3 linked regions of the Homo sapiens genome follow. The protein of the gene in region 1 interacts with the protein of each later gene in a pairwise test. Each region holds a gene or a part of one and is shown in the gene's direction. Other genes may lie near its edges. The genes, in order: VIPR2, URM1 and RGS14.

Region 1 (3,652 bases):
ACAGCATACTTATGCTCCTGTTTCTTTTCTTTCTTCCTCCCAATTTACATCCCAGTGTCCATTAGATTTCTAACAAGAATAAAGATCTATCTCTCCTGTGCCATTCCCACCACCCAAGTATAATTTATCATCCTGCCAGCCTCCTGATAGACTCACTTCACATTGCTGGTGTACATCATTGCCATCACAGTTGAGCCACATAATATCCAGCATTTCCTTTCTTCATAACTTTATGCTTTTCCTCGTTTTTCTGTTGCTGGGTTTTTCACCTACCTCTCAATAATTAGGCATCAAACCTCAGGCCAGAACACTCTCAAGACACTGCACTGAGGTGGTCTCAGGGTTCCATTTTTTCTCTTGTAGCAGGACGAGCTGCAGACAAAACCCCTCAGACACCGAGATGGTGAAGGGAGTGGCTTTAATCAGCTGGAAGCATTGGCAGACTAGCGTCTTAAAATCCGAGCTTGTCAGGTGCACAATTTTTGTCCCTTTTAAGGGCTCACAACGCTAAGGGTTTCACATGAAAGGGTCATGATTGATTGAGCAAGCCAGGGGGTATGTGACAGGGGCTGCATGCACGGGTGGTCAGAGTGAAACAGAACAGACCGGGAAGTTTCACAGTGTCTTTCTATACAATGTCTGCAATCTATAGATAACATCAGTTGCTAGGTCAGGGGTCAAATTTTAACTACCAGGCTTAGGTCAGGCAGGTCCAGGCCTGGTGTCGGGTCTGGTTCCTAGGCGCTGGGCTACCTGCCTTTAGTTTCGCTTCTGTTTCCTTTTCTGAGTATAAAACAATCTAAAACAATGTGAGAGGGTCTGTCTCTCTTCTCTCACTCCTAGAGCCACTCCTTCTGGATTCCCCCTCCTTGCCAAGTCGGGATCCTTGAGCTGGGGTCTGGCCCCAGGCAGGCATTGTGAGCCTCCTGCTCACACAGTCGGGGTCCTCGGTTGGGGATCTGGCCCCAGGAAGGCGCCATGAGCCTCCTCCTCACGGTCAGGATCCGGTCCCAAGTAGGTCCCGTGAGTCTCCTCCTCACAGTCAGGGTCGGTCCCAGGTAGGCGCCGTGAGCCTCCTCTTCACAGTCGGGGCTCTCAGCCGGGTCCCGTCCCAGGCAGGCGCCATGAGCCTCCTTCTCACAGTCAGGGTCGGTCCCAGGTAGGCGCCGTGAGTCTCCTCCTCACAGTCAGGGTCGGTCCCAGGTAGGCGCCGTGAGCCGCCTCCTCACAGTCGGGGCTCTCGGCCGGGTCCCGTCGGTTCCCTGCAGCGTCCTCCACCCTTGCCGGTGCCGGGGGTACCGATGGCCTGTCTCTCGCTTCTCCCCCTCCTCTGCCTGCCTATTTAACACAGTTGCTTCTGTCTGCAAGGCTGTAGTGACATCTCTTGGTGCTGCCCTTTCAAATTTTTGGCTGTCCTTTGCGTGAGGTTGAGAAGCTGAGAGAGAAACTCCTGTGTTCCCGCCTGGCAGCTGTTGCCAGGAGGTTGCAGCCAGTGCCACGTGTGCGACCGGCACTGTGGCAGCGCTTCCGGCTGCGCCTTCGGCTGCACTTCCGGCTGCTACCTCAGCCTCGGCGCCCTGACGCCCTCGAGTCCGCTTCCTCACATCCTGACAGCGTCTAGCTCTGCTCCCTCACGTGCGGTCCAATAAAGGAACAAATGAAGAGAAGACTTTCCCTGGCCATTGAAGGGATCAGATGATTAGCTCTAGATGTTTAAATCAAATCCTACTGTAATGCAAAGACTGTTTGATGTGGTATGAATTTAGTATCTCTGTTGAAATTTAAAGCAGCAATTAGTATTATACAGTATATAATTATTGCATTATAATTTGTATTATGTATTAGTTATCTTACTATACATTATCTTATTTATTGTTTATTTATTGAGACGAGGTCTCGCTCTGTCGCCCGGGCTGGAGTGCGGTGCCATGATCTTTACTAACTGCAACCTCGACCTCCCAGGCTCAAGTGATCCTCCCACCTCAGCCTCCCTAGTAGCTGGGACTATAGGCATGCTCTGTTACCTCCAGCGAATTTTTAAATATTTTCTGTAGAGATGGGGTCTCGCTATGTTGCCCACGCTGGTCTTGAAGTCTTGGGCTCAAGGGATTATCCCGCCTCAGCCTGCCAAAGTGTTGAGATTACAAACATGAGTCACTACACCCAGCCCATTATTTTAAAATAACAATATTATATAATTATTGCTTTTTTTTTTTGAGACGGAATCTTGCTCTGTCACCCAGGCTGGAATGCAGTGATGCGATCTCGGCTCACTGCAACCTCCACCTTCTGGGTTCAAGCAATTCTCCTCCCTTAGCCTCCTGAGTAGCTGGGATTACAGGTGTGTACCACCACACCCGGCTAATTTTTGTATTTTTAGTAGAGACGGGGTTTCACCATGTTGGCCAGGCTGTTCTCACACTCCTGACCTCAAATGATCCACCAACCTCATCCTCCCAAAGCGCTGGGATTACAGGTGTGAGCCACCACACCCAGCCATTACTATTATCAAGGTAGAAATTTGTCATTTTGTGATAAAAAGCTGAACCTTCAAAATAACCAGACACGAAACTGCCAGAGCTTGCTGTTTTATAGGAGATGGACAGAACTTTGCTGATCACATGCAGAGTCTTCACTTGGAGGCCTAGACATCTTCACTTTCCTCTCCATCTTGTTCACTCTTGGCTAGGAACCCCATCCTGACACCTCTCCACCACCTGCCCTACACACCAGAGTTAGAAGTGCTTGGTTTACGAACTTAGCATTTAAATAACTCTACTACTTAGACTCTAAGCAGCCTTACACGGGGGCTCACGCCTGGAGTTTCTAGTGATGCATTTACATTTGATCACTTGTTTTGAACATTTTAAAAGAAAACCAACATTTTCTTTAAATATGTTAACATTAATGTAATATGAATTTATGTACTTATTCAAGTATTGGTATGTAATTTTATTTTATAATAAATATATTTTCACTTTTATTGAAAGTATTTAGAAACTATTTTCATCTGCAAAACTTAGCTTATGGCCAGCTTTTCAGAGACATTTCTGTATTCTTGAAAGTAAAACACTCCTTTGTTCACACCAAAGCTGTGTGTTCTCTATGGATGTATTCCTGCAATTATTGCACAGGTCTGGGTGGCATGTGCTGAAAGGAAAACTGATTGTTTGTTTGTTTGTTTGTTTGTTTGTTTGTTTTACCGACCAAGGCTAGCACATTGCTTTTCTGATACTGAGGTTTAAGTAAAAGGTAAAATTTTAGAGGTCTCAAATATAGTATAAATACCATGGACAAGTAGGAAAGTCCTGGGTTTAACATGCATTCCATCACTGTTGTGTGATATTGAGAATTCATTAAAAGATTTGAACCTTAGTGCTTTTCATCTGGAAGATAATTAATGCAACATTTTTATATCTAACCTTCACCAGGTGGTTATTAAGACCAAATAGTAGGTCTAAAAATGTTTAAGCTATGCATTATGCAAATTATTTGACAACTCCATGAAGGTAACCTAAGATTTTGTTGCTAATAAGGCATCTTGACAGTGAAAAATCAAACAAATATTATCAAATACTTTTATTTGCAAATAATCATTGAAGTCAGATTCCACAGAAGCACAAGCACACTTTCCCTGGGCGTCTCCCTCCCC
Region 2 (3,652 bases), on another chromosome or scaffold:
AGGTGGTCAGCAGAGGTCTCTTTAAGGAGGTAACATACCAAGGCCAGGTGCAGTGGCTCACTCCTGTAATCCCAGCACTTTGGGAGGCCAAGGTAGGCGGATCACCTGAGGTCTGGAGTTAGAGACCAGCCAGGCCAACATGGTGAAACCCTGTCTCTACTAAAAATACAAAAATAGCTGGGCATGGTGGTGGGCACCTGTAATCCCAGGTTGAGGCAGGAGAATCGCTTGAACCCTGGAGGTGGAGGTTGTATAGTGAGCCGAGATCGTGCCACTGCACTCCAGCCTGGGCGCAGAGCAAGACTCCGTCTCAAAAACAAAAAACAAAACAAATAAAAGGTAGAAACCAAAATTTAGAGAAGTCAGGGGTCTCACCCCAAGTCATAGAGTTATTTAAATAGCAGGGTTGGGATTCAGAACTAGCTTTCAGGCCACTGAATTTCAGAGTCCTGGCGCTTTGCCACTAACCCATCACCGTCTATCCCAAGAGGCTCCCTGAATTACTCTAACATCTTACATTTTCCAGTTTTTACGCTTTCCTTCATTTATTTATTCATGAGTTCAACAACTACTTATTTCAACTTTCAGATGACCCCAAGAGATAAGAGACCCCTAAAAGAGAAAGAGAAGGAGGGAGGGACCTGAGGCCTGCCCAGAGTTACCCAAGTAGGGAGGCTGGGCTGGGACTCAGATTTTTTTATCCTTCATCTTCCAGCCACTGTTCAGGGAACAGGCAGGGGCCTATCCCCACTCTGGGAAGAAAGGAGGGGAGTGGGAGGGAAGGCACAATGGCCCACTTAGTCTTTGGCTCCTTTGCTGTGAGTCCCTACACCTGGTTCCTGTTGTGCCCAGAGGCATGGGTCACACAGCAGACCCATGGTAACCTAGGTTGGTGACCTAGGTCACCAACAGAGCTGGTTAGCAGCTGCCAGGCCTCACCCTGGCACATGTGAGCCCAGCTGGGGGTCAGGGGCCTGGTGCTGCTAGGAGAGTCTTACCCTTCCCCCAAGTCCATGCCCAGATATGTCATCTGGCAGACTTCCCAGCCTAGGGGCTGCCACTTGGCCAAGCGAGTCTTGGAGGTTCCAGCAGAAATAATAGCAGCCGTAAGATTTCAGAATGTGACAAGCCTCACAAATGAGGGAACTCGTGGCTCCTAGGCCAGGGGAGAGCTTCCAACCCAGCCAATTTGGGAGAAATGATGAGCAAGGCCTGAGGGAGTGAGACTGCGAGAGAGGAAGCCTGGCACGCGCAGTTGCACATCACTTATTCCTGCCAGACTCTTTCTTCCCTATCTGTAAGATGGGAGGTTGGGCTCGCTCTGTATGTTATTGAGCTGGTTGTCTCTTTGACATCTATAAGAAAAGTTTCTTCAAGATCCAAGTATATACAATTCGGTGAAGCAGAGTGTGCTGACCCAGTAAGAAGTTGTGTGAGAGAAGGGATGTCTTAACAGCCATCTCGCTGAAACGGCCATGCAGGCACCCACCAGCTTAGGGTATTGCGGCTGCTGGGAGTTGGCCTCTGTGATTCAAGCATCCCTTTGACCCAAGGCCCCCTGCCCAGGCCCCAAGTGTAGACATGGCCGCCTCACCTTTCCCTGCCTGTCTTCCCCTGTCCTGCCTTTGTGCCCCCTCTGCCTGCTCCACTTGTGTTAAAGGGTGGCTGGTGAGGGAGGGCAGGAGCTGCAGGAGCTCCTGGGCGCTTTAAACTGCTTAGCATGCATTTCACAGCCTCTCTGGGGCCAGCTGTTCCTTTCTCTGCTCTCAGGGCCTGTTTGCTGATCCCCTCTCCACCTCCCTCCTCCCCACACCCCTCCCAGTCCCTGTGCAAAATTGCTTTTGAAAAGATCCACTTTCTGCTTAATTAAACAATGAGGAGGTCCCCTCGCACATCTGTAAACCTCCTTCTGAGGCCAGTTTAGCCCACAAACTGCTCCATTCTTACCCCCATTCACTTGTAAATGGCCCCTCTGATGTTCCCTCCACCCCCTCTCCTCTGTTACTCCCCCCTTGCCAGCTCTTTCTTTTCCCTTTTCAACTGAGGCCTGGGGTGGGCTCTCCGAAGAGCCGTCTTGGAGCCTGGTGGACTTGGTGGGGACAGAGGCAGTTTAACCTGTGGAAGAGAAGACTTAGGGGATCCTTTCTTCCAAATCTGAAGGGCCATCCTGGGGAAGAGGGGGTGCATTTGTTGGCATGGTCCCCGTGGACCATTCAGGCCCAGTGGGTGGGAATGACAGGAAGACAGATTTCTGCTTGGGAGAAAAGAGCTCTTAACAATCAGAGCCGCTCCACAGAGGAGCTGACCTCCTGTCCCTGGAGGTGTTCAAAGAGAGGCTGGATGAGGGTCTGTTACGCCTGCGAGTCAATATCAGATACGACTTTGAGGTTGTTCCGTTTCAGTCCCACGAGGCTGAGGCTGACACCCTTTGGGGCCCTCCCACAGTGGGCAGTCAGTGTCCCCCAGAATAGGACAAGTCCACCGGGGCGAGGGATTCTGGTGGAGCTTGCGTCGGTGCTCTCCACAGTGGGTATCCTCCCTTTGGCAGCAGCCTTTAGAAGGTACTGGAGCCCAGAGGATGAGGAATCTGAAGTCACTGTGGGCTTACAGCTCAGAGCAGCCATCTGTTGAGCGTGTCCTGTGTGTGTGACACTGCCAGGCCTGCCTTGGGCATTGTGCCTTACGTAATCCTCAGCAGCTCTTGGTGTTTGGATTATTATCCCTGCTTGTCAGAGGATGACACTGAGACAGCAAGATGAAGTGACTTCCTAGCTAAGGCCATCGAGCACACAGCCGAGGTCCTCTGGCTGTAGACTCAGAACTCAACCACTCCAGCATAGAGCAGCAGCTCTCATTGCCTGCTCTGCCCCCGATGGGCAGGCCAGGTGCCAAGGTATCCTGCACTGGAAACCTTGTATTAAGTGCCCATCTCCTTCCTCTGGTGCTGTGTGCCCGGGGGCAGCCTGGCCGCCAGCACCTACAGACTCAGAGTGTCATTCCTACCACCTGGGTTGTACTGGGAGCATTGGCCAACCCCAACATCTTGTGGGTTCAAACATCTAACACAGAAGGAAGGTCAGTATCTAGGACCCCTCACTACTCTCGCAGTCCCCTCATTCCCTTTCCAGCTTCTGATGGGAAGATACGGGATGCCACAGAAAACCCCAGCCGGTCCCAGCACTATCTGATTAATGGTTGGCTCTACCTTGCCCTCTAAAGCTGAGGTGCCAGGCCACTGGGCAGAGCGTGCAGAAACCCAGAGAGCGCGAGGGGTATAGGTTCTTCCTCTGGATCCTGGAGTAATTACAGCATTGATATGCAGGGCACAGTGCTGAGAGCTTTGTATATATCGTCTTATTTGATCCCCCACAATGACCCTATGAGACAATGTTAACATCCCCATTTTACAAAAAAAGGAAGCCGAGGCTTCCTATTACCTAAGGTAATAGAACTAGTAAGTGATGGAGTCCAGCTCAAAACCAGGCCTGTCTGACTCCAGGGTCCATACTCTTAGTCTCTTTCTTCCTCCCTCCTTCCCTCCCTACCTCCCCAGTTGTCCACTCAAGTAATGGTAATGGTAGTGCCATACATTTGAGCTGGATCGTGATTCAAGTGTTGAGTCAGAGACACATGGAAGCACAGGCCTGGGCAG
Region 3 (2,739 bases), on another chromosome or scaffold:
GGGAGGGCGTGAAGTTGTTCTCAGACCCACAGGGATGGCTGGGGGTTGGGGGAGGGACTCTTAGACCCTGCCTGGCATCCACAGAAGGCCCTGGTCCTGGATCAGGACTGCACCGTGCTGGCGGATCAGGAAGTGCGGCTGGAAAACAGGATCACCTTCGAGTGAGTGTCCTGCCCCCAAGTCTGGGTCCCAGGTCCTGACGCTCCCTTCAGGCCCTGTTCTAGCTACCTGGCTCCCCAGGCCCCGCCCCTCGTGCTAGCCCCGCCCCTGGGACAAACCCCGCCCCCTACAAGCCAGTCCCACCTTCTGCAGTTCAAGCTCCACCCCCTCGCGTTTGTCCTGGGAAGGGTTTGGCGGGGGGCCGGCCCTCCGGCCCTCTGCTGCCCGAGGGTTCCTCGCAGGCTGGAGCTGACGGCGCTGGAGCGCGTGGTACGAATCTCAGCCAAGCCCACCAAGCGGCTGCAGGAGGCGCTGCAGCCCATTCTGGAGAAGCACGGCTTGAGCCCGCTAGAGGTGGTGCTGCACCGGGTGAGCTTCCGGGCCGCGGGGCGGGGCGGGGCGGGGCCGGGCCGGGGCCGGGGCCGGGGCCGGGGCCGGGGCCGGGGCCGGGGCCGGGGCCGGGCGGAGGCCTGTACCGCGGGCTGCTGACCTCTCCCCACAGCCAGGCGAGAAACAGCCTCTGGATCTGGGGAAGCTAGTGAGCTCGGTGGCGGCCCAGAGACTGGTTTTGGACACTCTTCCAGGTAGGGGACGCTGGCCTCGGGGCTTGATCTGGAACAGCTGTGGCCCAGGAGGAAGGGGGTCCAGGTGGGAGGCAAACACTAACTGTGGCCCTCTCTGCTGCAGGTGTGAAGATCTCCAAAGCCCGTGACAAATCTCCCTGCCGCAGCCAGGTGAGCGAAAGGCGAGTGGCCTCTTCCACCCTCTGCTTCTCCCCTCCCGATTTTGGCTCTGACCCCAAATTCTCGCAGGGCTGCCCACCTAGAACTCAGGATAAGGCCACCCATCCCCCTCCAGCGTCCCCCAGTTCTCTGGTGAAGGTGCCCAGTAGTGCCACTGGAAAGCGGCAGACCTGTGACATCGAAGGTACATGGTGGATGAGCTGGGGATCAGAAAGACTAGGGCAGTGGGGTTGGGGACCATTCAGGGTGGCATCAGAGAGCCTTGAGCTAAGGCAGGGGGCTGGGTGCCACTGGGCGTGGAACAGGAAGGATGGGGGTTGGGGGGTCAAAGGGGCTGGAACAGGGGGCCGCAGGCCATTGGTGCTGGGGCCAGGGAGGCAGTGGCCACAGTAAGGCAGTGGGACTATCGTGGGCTGGCATATAGGCAGGTCTGCTGGGGGGACCCTCATGCTGTGGCTTGCCTCCAGGCCTGGTGGAGCTGCTGAACCGGGTGCAGAGCAGCGGGGCCCACGACCAGAGGGGCCTTCTGAGGAAAGAGGACCTGGTACTTCCAGAATTTCTGCAGCTGCCCGCCCAAGGGCCCAGCTCCGAGGAGACCCCACCACAGACCAAATCAGCAGCCCAGCCCATCGGGGGATCCTTGAACTCCACCACCGACTCAGCCCTCTGACAGCTACCCAACAGTCCAGGACAGCTGCATGGCACCCGGCGGGCCGAGCATGCCATGGGTCCGCTCTGCATGCCCTGTCTGTGCCATGAGTGTCCCTGGCCCCTTCCTGCCATGGGCAGGCCCGCAGGAAGAGCCGGTAGGGGTGGAAAGGGGACTCAGATGAGACACACCCCACAGCTGCCACCGCCTTGTCCCTCAACAAGCTCACCCCCAATCCCTTGCAGCCAGGCCACAATGGGGGAGGTGAGTCCAGCCCCTTGGAACAGGCTTGCCCAACATGGAGGGATGGCGTTGGCAGTGCCAGCCTCCCCAGCCTGTGCCAAGCTTCAACAGGGGCAAGAGGAGGGGCCGGCCCCTCCTCAGGAAGCTGGTATGAGTAAGGCCTTGAGGGTGCAGGCAGGCAGCCCTGTACCCCACCCACATAGACTATACTGTACATACAGATTTTGCAGTAGGCTTGGGGCAGCTGGGTTTGTCCTTGATGTATGATACTGTTATTATAATAATTATTATTATTCTGCCATGAGTTGTCTTCCTTGTGTGCCAGACTGTCCTGTGGCTTCCCCCACCCTCAAAACACACTACTTCTGTCACCAAGGTCAGTGCCAGGAAACTCTTGGGGACCTCAGGATGTGCCTCCTGACTTCCTGTTTTCAGAACCTCTCTTCCTGACTGCACAGTATATGGGGTGGTGTGTGAATATCTTATAGTATTTTTTTTTTTAAGAATATGGGAGCTGGGTGAGGTGGCTCACACCTGTAATCCCAGCACTTTGGGAGACCAAGGGGGGTGGGGGTGGATCGCTTGAGCTCAGGAGTTTGAGACCAGTCTGGGCAACATGTCAAAACTCTGTCTCTACCAAAAATACAAAAAATTACCTGGGTGTGGTGGTGCATGCCTGTGGTCCCAGCTACTTGGGAGACAGGTGGAAGAGGATCACTTGAGCCCGGAAGGCGAAGGTTGCAGTGAGCCGAGATCGTGCCACCGCACTCCAGCCTGGATGACAGAGTGAGACCTGTCATGGTGTGGAGGTGAGAGAGAGGGCGGGGAGAGGTGTGGGGGTGAAGAACCCTGTGGGGAGCTGTGCCTCTCCATCATGTTGCTGTTGTACTGTGGTCTCTGTGGATCTGAGTACATCATTCTGGTCCTGTTCTCTGCTTCTACTGG

The links.
Region 2: the proteins of VIPR2 (region 1) and URM1 interact in a protein complementation assay, tested with the Homo sapiens proteins (one large-scale study listed by IntAct).
Region 3: the proteins of VIPR2 (region 1) and RGS14 interact in a two-hybrid assay, tested with the Homo sapiens proteins (one large-scale study listed by BioGRID and IntAct).

What each region holds. Positions count from the first base shown.
Region 1 is NC_000007.14:159,110,244-159,113,895, reverse strand, and holds part of VIPR2 (vasoactive intestinal polypeptide receptor 2 isoform 1 precursor), read left to right. Parts: intron 1-3,652. UniProt on the Homo sapiens protein: G protein-coupled receptor activated by the neuropeptides vasoactive intestinal peptide (VIP) and pituitary adenylate cyclase-activating polypeptide (ADCYAP1/PACAP).
Region 2 is NC_000009.12:128,381,374-128,385,025, forward strand, and holds part of URM1 (ubiquitin-related modifier 1), read left to right. Parts: intron 1-3,652. UniProt on the Homo sapiens protein: Acts as a sulfur carrier required for 2-thiolation of mcm(5)S(2)U at tRNA wobble positions of cytosolic tRNA(Lys), tRNA(Glu) and tRNA(Gln). Serves as sulfur donor in tRNA 2-thiolation reaction by being thiocarboxylated (-COSH) at its C-terminus by MOCS3.
Region 3 is NC_000005.10:177,370,504-177,373,242, forward strand, and holds the end of RGS14 (regulator of G-protein signaling 14), read left to right. Parts: intron 1-84; coding exon of another isoform or gene 85-87; coding exon 88-161; intron 162-401; coding exon 402-528; intron 529-661; coding exon 662-743; intron 744-846; coding exon 847-893; intron 894-971; coding exon 972-1,086; intron 1,087-1,369; coding exon 1,370-1,572; 3' UTR 1,573-2,093; downstream 2,094-2,739.